2 separate regions of the Homo sapiens genome follow, and region 1 is linked to region 2. Evidence: fine-mapped expression QTL. A gene starts in region 2. The other region holds a variant in brackets. All regions are shown on one strand. Distances are from middle to middle. Region 1 has its middle 15 kb from the start of NIPAL2. Region 2 holds the start of KCNS2 (potassium voltage-gated channel modifier subfamily S member 2).

What was found. PIP is the estimated chance that this variant, and not a neighbour inherited with it, causes the effect.
Region 1: its variant is fine-mapped to the expression of KCNS2 in fibroblasts (GTEx, PIP 0.98).

The regions. Positions count from the first base shown.
Region 1 is chr8:98,307,999-98,310,906 of GRCh38, reverse strand. No RefSeq gene overlaps it. Among named protein-coding and RNA genes, the nearest start is that of NIPAL2, 15 kb to the right of the region's middle. The variant T/C (reference allele first, on the strand shown) is at 1,797.
Region 2 is chr8:98,425,348-98,428,255 of GRCh38, reverse strand. It overlaps KCNS2 (potassium voltage-gated channel modifier subfamily S member 2), which reads right to left and starts at 1,298. Exons shown (of 2, transcript NM_020697.4): 1 at 927-1,298; 2 at 1-318. The coding sequence starts at 276. It also overlaps a transcript of STK3 not described here. RefSeq lists a silencer at 1,199-1,398.

The DNA.
Region 1 (2,908 bases), 120 kb after region 2:
GATTACATGTTGAAATGATATTCTGGGTATGGTGGGTTAAATAAAATCCAACATTGAAATTAATTTCACCTGTTTCTTTTTGCCTTCTTAACGTGGCTACTAAAACATTTAAAATTCTATATATGGCTTGAGTTACATTTCTATTGGACAACGCTGGTCTAGACTTAAGAGGAGATTTGGACATTTCTGAATGTCCTCCTGGGTGTGAGACAGAGCAGAGACTCTTCTTAGGGGACTGCCACCCTGCCCCAAGCATGGAAATAAAGGAAAATCTGGAGTTCCTTCAAGGGAAATTCCAAACACCTAGCCAGCCCTGAGATGTAAATAAGCAACCTGATAAGCAAGAGGGTAATAATTGCTGAAAACAATAGCAAAGGAAGTTAGAGCCACAAGATGTTCGGTTCCCTATAGAAACTAAAGACAGGTCGGGCATGGTGGCTCATGCCTGTAATCCTAACACTTTGGGAGGCTAAGGCAGGAGGATCCCTTGAGCTCAAGAGTTCAAGACCAGCCTGGGCAACATAGGGAGACCTTGTCTCTAAAAAAGAAGAACTAAAGATAACATCTTCACATATGTCCCTGAGTTGTTTTTCAGAAACTCACACCCCCCACCAAATGGAAAATGTCGTTCACTGGCACATAGACCTCAGGTAAGGGAGAAGTGAGGACTCAGTGCCATTCTTTGTTCTAAATTTCTTCCTGAGGGGACTTGAAGAGTCACATGCAGAGGCCAGACCTCAACATTCCTTTCTGCTGACCCCAAGTTTTTAGACAAAGCTTTGCTTCCTTAACCGGAGAATCTTTGAATCCCCCAATGACCGGTAAGCCCCTGCTTCAAGATATCCTATCTTTTTAGGCCAAACCAATCTCTAACCTCCATGTGCTGATTTATGATTTCACTTCTGCTTTCCTGAAGTGTACCCCTGCCTTTAAAAACCTTTGCCTGTAAGTCAGCAGGCAGTCTTAAGCACAAGCTGCCCAATTCTTATTCCTTGGTGTCCTGTAAATAAATGCCCTCCTTTCCCTCACTGCAAACCTCGGTGAGGGTGTTTGTCTTTAGTGTGCAGGGTGAGCGGACCCAGGTTTGGCTCAGTAACAGGTGGAGCTATTAAGGCAGCAATGGAACAAATCTGAAAACCTGAAACGTAAGCATATCTTGTAAAGGTAGAATGATTTATGAGCATCTCTGTCTTGTTTGCACCATTGTAAAGGATTTCTTCCTAGTGCTCTATGTGCTGGACACTGTGCTAGGTGTTGGGGCTACAGGATAAACCAGGCAAAGGTGGTCCTGCCCTCCTCAAGCTTGCTCTCTAGCTACGTGATTCAGTCTCTCCCTTCATCAGGAGAGTTTCTGCTACTGCTGTCTTTGGAGGAGAATGGATAGGGAAGCATGACATTTGATATTTATTTGTTTTTCATCATGACTAAATGTATTGAATGTTTACTCTGTATCAGGCACTTTTAATTCCTTGTCTCCTGGAATCCTCATTAATCAATCACCCTACAAAGCAGGAACTATTATTATTCCTGTAAAAAGGAGTAAACTGAGGATTGGGAAGTAAAATAAGTTGCCCAAAGCCAAACAGATGGTCAGAAACAGAGCCCGAATTGAAACCCAGATCTGCCTGAATGCAGTGTTCCACAGCTAACCACTATACACATACTACACTGGCTAACTTTCTTTTTTTAGAGAGAGAGGGCAGGGGCGGTGTGGGGGGGGATGGCACGGGTCTCTCACTTTGTTGCCTAGGCTGGTCTTGAACTCCTGGCTTCAAGAGATCCTCCTGCCTTAGCCT[T/C]CCAAAGTGCTGGGATTACAGGCGTGAGCCACTGCACCTGGCCTGTTGCTATTTTACAACTGAGGAAACTGAATCCCAGAAAAGTGAAATAACCCAGCCAAGATCATGGAGCTACTAAACTGTGGCAACATTATTTGAATCTTAGTCCTCTTACATGTAAAGTTCTTTAAATATTCCATCTCTCTAAAGTTCCCATAAAAATATATATGTTGGTGGCACTGCCTGTAACCCCAGCACTTTGGGAGGCCGAAGCGGGCAGATCACTTGAGGCCAGGAGTTTGAGACCTGCCTGGCCAACATGGCAAAACCCCATCTCCATAAAAATGCACACACACAATAATAGCCAGGTGTGGTGGCGTGCTTATAATCTCAGCTACTTGGGAAGGTGAGGCATGAGAATCATTTGAACCTGGGAGGCGGAGGCTGCAGTGAGCCGAGATTGCACCACTGCACTTCAGCCTGGGCAACAGAACAAGATGCTGTCTCAAAAAAATAAAAATTAAAATTAAAAAAGGTATATTTTAAACGTGTGGAAGATAAAAGCTAGCCTTCTTAGCTTGGTGTGTTGGTGAACACCTGTAGTCCCCTGTAGTCCCAGCTACTCGAGAGACTGAAGTGGGACGATCACGTGAGCCCAGGAGGCCGAGGTTGCAGTGAGCCGTAATTGTGCCGCTATACTCCAGCCTGGGGCACAGAGCAAGCCCCTGTCTCAAAGAAAAGGAGAGGATCCAGTTTCAGCTTTCTACATATGGCTGAAACTGGATCCCTTCCTTACACCTTATACAAAAATCAATTCAAGATGGATTAAAGATTTAAACATTAGACCTAAAACCATAAAAACCCTAGAAGAAAACCTAGGCATTACCATTCGGGACATAGGCATGGGCAAGGACTTCATGTCCAAAACACCAAAAGCAATGGCAACAAAAGACAAAATTGACAAATGGGATCTAATTAAACTAAAGAGCTTCTGCACAGCAAAAGAAACTACCATCAGAGCGGACAGGCAACCTACAAAATGGGAGAAAATTTTCACAACCTACTCATCTGACAAAGGGCTAATATCCAGAATCTACAATGAACTCAAACAAATTTACAAGAAAAAAACAAAC
Region 2 (2,908 bases):
GACGTGAAGCTTGCCGGTGTGATAGAAATGCAGCACGTAGGGGAAGAGCTCAGGGTTGCGGTCGAAGTAGAACTCCCGCTGGACGTCGTCGTAGTCATCGCAGAGCTCCAGAATGGCCTCGCGCGAGTGGCAGAGCAGCAAGCGGCCCAGGCGCGTCTCGGGGAAGCGCAGCAGCGTGTGCGAGCGCAGCCTCCTCTTGAAGCCGCCCACATTGATGCGGATCTCCCCGTCCTCGACGTTAGCCTCCGACACGTCCCACAGGCTCTGGCCGGTCATGCTGGAGGCGCCGGCCGCCCGCGCCGCGCGGGGGCGCTACACCTGGAAGCGGAGGGAACAGCGTCGGCGAGAGCGCCGTGCGCCCTGGCGGGGCCCCCTCTCCCTACCCATTACTGGCGGGCCCAGGCCTCCTGGTGGGTCTTGGGTGCTGAAGGGCTGGGCTGGGGCAAGAGTTTGAGGGGTCTGATCCCCTCCCAGGAAAGGCTGGGGGTGGGTATGTTTCTATTAGCACAGCTCCACCCCAGGGGTCTCGGTGGGCGCTTTGCGCGTGCGGGGTCGCGTCCCCGCGGCTCTGAGCGCCCAGGGGGCTGCATGCTGACCTTGTCCATGGGCAGGCCCGGGAGACGCCCCCGCCCGCTCGCCGCAGACAGGCGGGACCGGAGCTGAGATACGCACGGGCAGGGCCGGGCCGACACGGGGGGCGCGTAGCTTTGGTGGGGTGGGGGGGATGCGCTGGAGTCTGGAAACCCGGGCCGCGGGAATGAGGGGGGCGGCCCGGCCTCCCCTGGGTCCAGATCCCACGCCTGCAGCCCCCGCGTCCCCGGCCCAGGTCTCCCTGCCGGCCTGGCGCTATGCCCCGGGGCCGCGTGCGCTGCGCCTCACCCAGCGGGGCTGCCCGGGCTCGCCCTGCGCGTTCTGGAAGCGCTTACCTGGGAGCACGGGTGCCCGCGGCCGAGGCCGGCGGGAAACTTCCCCAACCCGCGGGCGAGCATCGCGGCGGTGGCCGCTGCCTGCTGGCGGTGCGTGCGCGGGTGCGAGTGTGTGCGCCCGGCGGGCCGGCGGGCGGGGGCCGCCGAGCGTCTCCTCCCGTCTCGGGCCGGGTACGCCGCCGCCGCCCGCAGCTGCCGAAGGCTCACAGGTGGCTGCGTGGTCCCGCCGCTCCCGGAGCCCCCTCTCCGGATCCGCGCGCCCCTCACCCACCCAGAGAGGCAGGAACCCGCGCCGCATTCGCCCCGTGAGCCGGGGCGGGAGCAGAGCGGGTGTGACGGGGCGCCCGCCCTGCGCGGGGCGCGGCGCGGTGGTGCTGAACGGACAGCTCCGCGTGCCTCGGCCGCCGCCCGGGCTCGGAAGGCGCAGCCGCCGCCGCCGCTGCTTCTCTGCGCTTCCCCGGCGCGTCACCGCGACCACCTTGCGCCCCCGGCTCGGCGCGGGGCCGACACCTCTCCCTTCCCCCCGACCATCCCCCGGTGACAGCTGTTATTATCACCACCCCCAGGGCGCAGGCAGGGGGCTGCCTACGGTGACCTTTCCCCGCTGGGTCTGGCGGGAGCTGGGCTGGGAAATAAAGGGCGGCTTGCGCGTGTCCGGGGACAGGGCGGGACCGGAGGAACTCCAGGTGTCCCCTTTTAGGGACCTGAAGAAAAGTTTCCCGAAGCCCGGGGGTGGGGTTGTTGGGGAACAGGAGCTGGAGGGGAAAAGAGGGGGCCGGGAAGTCCAAGGTGGAGATCGGCTTAGTACGCGGGGGGCGGGAGCGCAGGCCGCACGGCGGGGGCGGGAGTCGCTGAGTTCTGGTCGGGAGCTCTGTGTGGGCACAGTTTGTGTCCAGGCCGGTGTGGTGTGCTGGCTGTGCGGGACTGCAGGGCGCTGTGTGTGTATGTAGGCTGAGGACAGCAGGACTTTTCAGTGTCTGTGTGTACCGCGTTCATTAAAATGGGTCCTCTGTCGGATGGGAAGATGCGTCGGCACAGGGGGGACCTGGGACGTGTGTCAGCGCAGTGTGTGGCATGGGGAACCGTGTGCTGTGTGTACATGTGCTGTGTACAGTGTAGTACTCTTGGGACTGTGACGGGCTCATGTGTGTGGAATATGTTGAGAGCGGTGTGCTTGCCGACAGTGGGGACTGGGGGGTTCAAGCTGGAGTGGGGACTGGTAGATGTGCTCAGGATCTGTGTCCCTATTCCTAAGAAGACTCGTGGCCCAGATCTGAGCTCTTGGTCTGCTGGGATTGTCCTTAAGGCCCTGCCTACTGGGCTGAGCTGAGAAATGGACCCAGTCCCTGGGGAGCCCCCTCCCTTTGGTGTTTCTCTGTGGTGTCCACTTGCAAAGACTGGAGCACCGTGGTTGTGTGAGCTTAGCAGGGAGCTAGCGTCTACATGTCTCGGTCAGAAGTCCTGGGAATGCCCTTGCAGGGTGGCTCTGGATTCATGGTGCAACCACCACTGCCACAGTGGGAAGTACATTCTTTCTTTACGCAATCCTGGCAATGCCGTCCCAGCTGAAAAGGTGCTCTGTGTAGCTCTGGAGGGCTTGGGGCCTCCTTGGAGGACCTGTAGAGGACCGTTAATCTGGCTTCGAATGGGGGCTCCTGCATCCAAGTCTGACCCATCCCTGTGACCCACTGGCTTCTGGACATGTGTGTGGGTGTGAATGCAGGTGTGTTTCCTGCTGAGAGGGCTTCACACCCATGCCCCTGCAGGCCTCTGCAAATGTGGTGGATTCCACAGAGGCAGCCACATGGGAGAGGGATAGTAGGGTAGTGAGGGCCACACACACTTCCTCTTTCTTGTGTATGACCTTTCCCCAGGCTTTGGGAAACTTTTCTTCAGGTCCCTAAAAGAGGAATCCAGTCCTCCATTCTGCCCTACCCTCAAACACACACAAGCCACCCTTTATTTCCCAGTGTGTTTGTGTG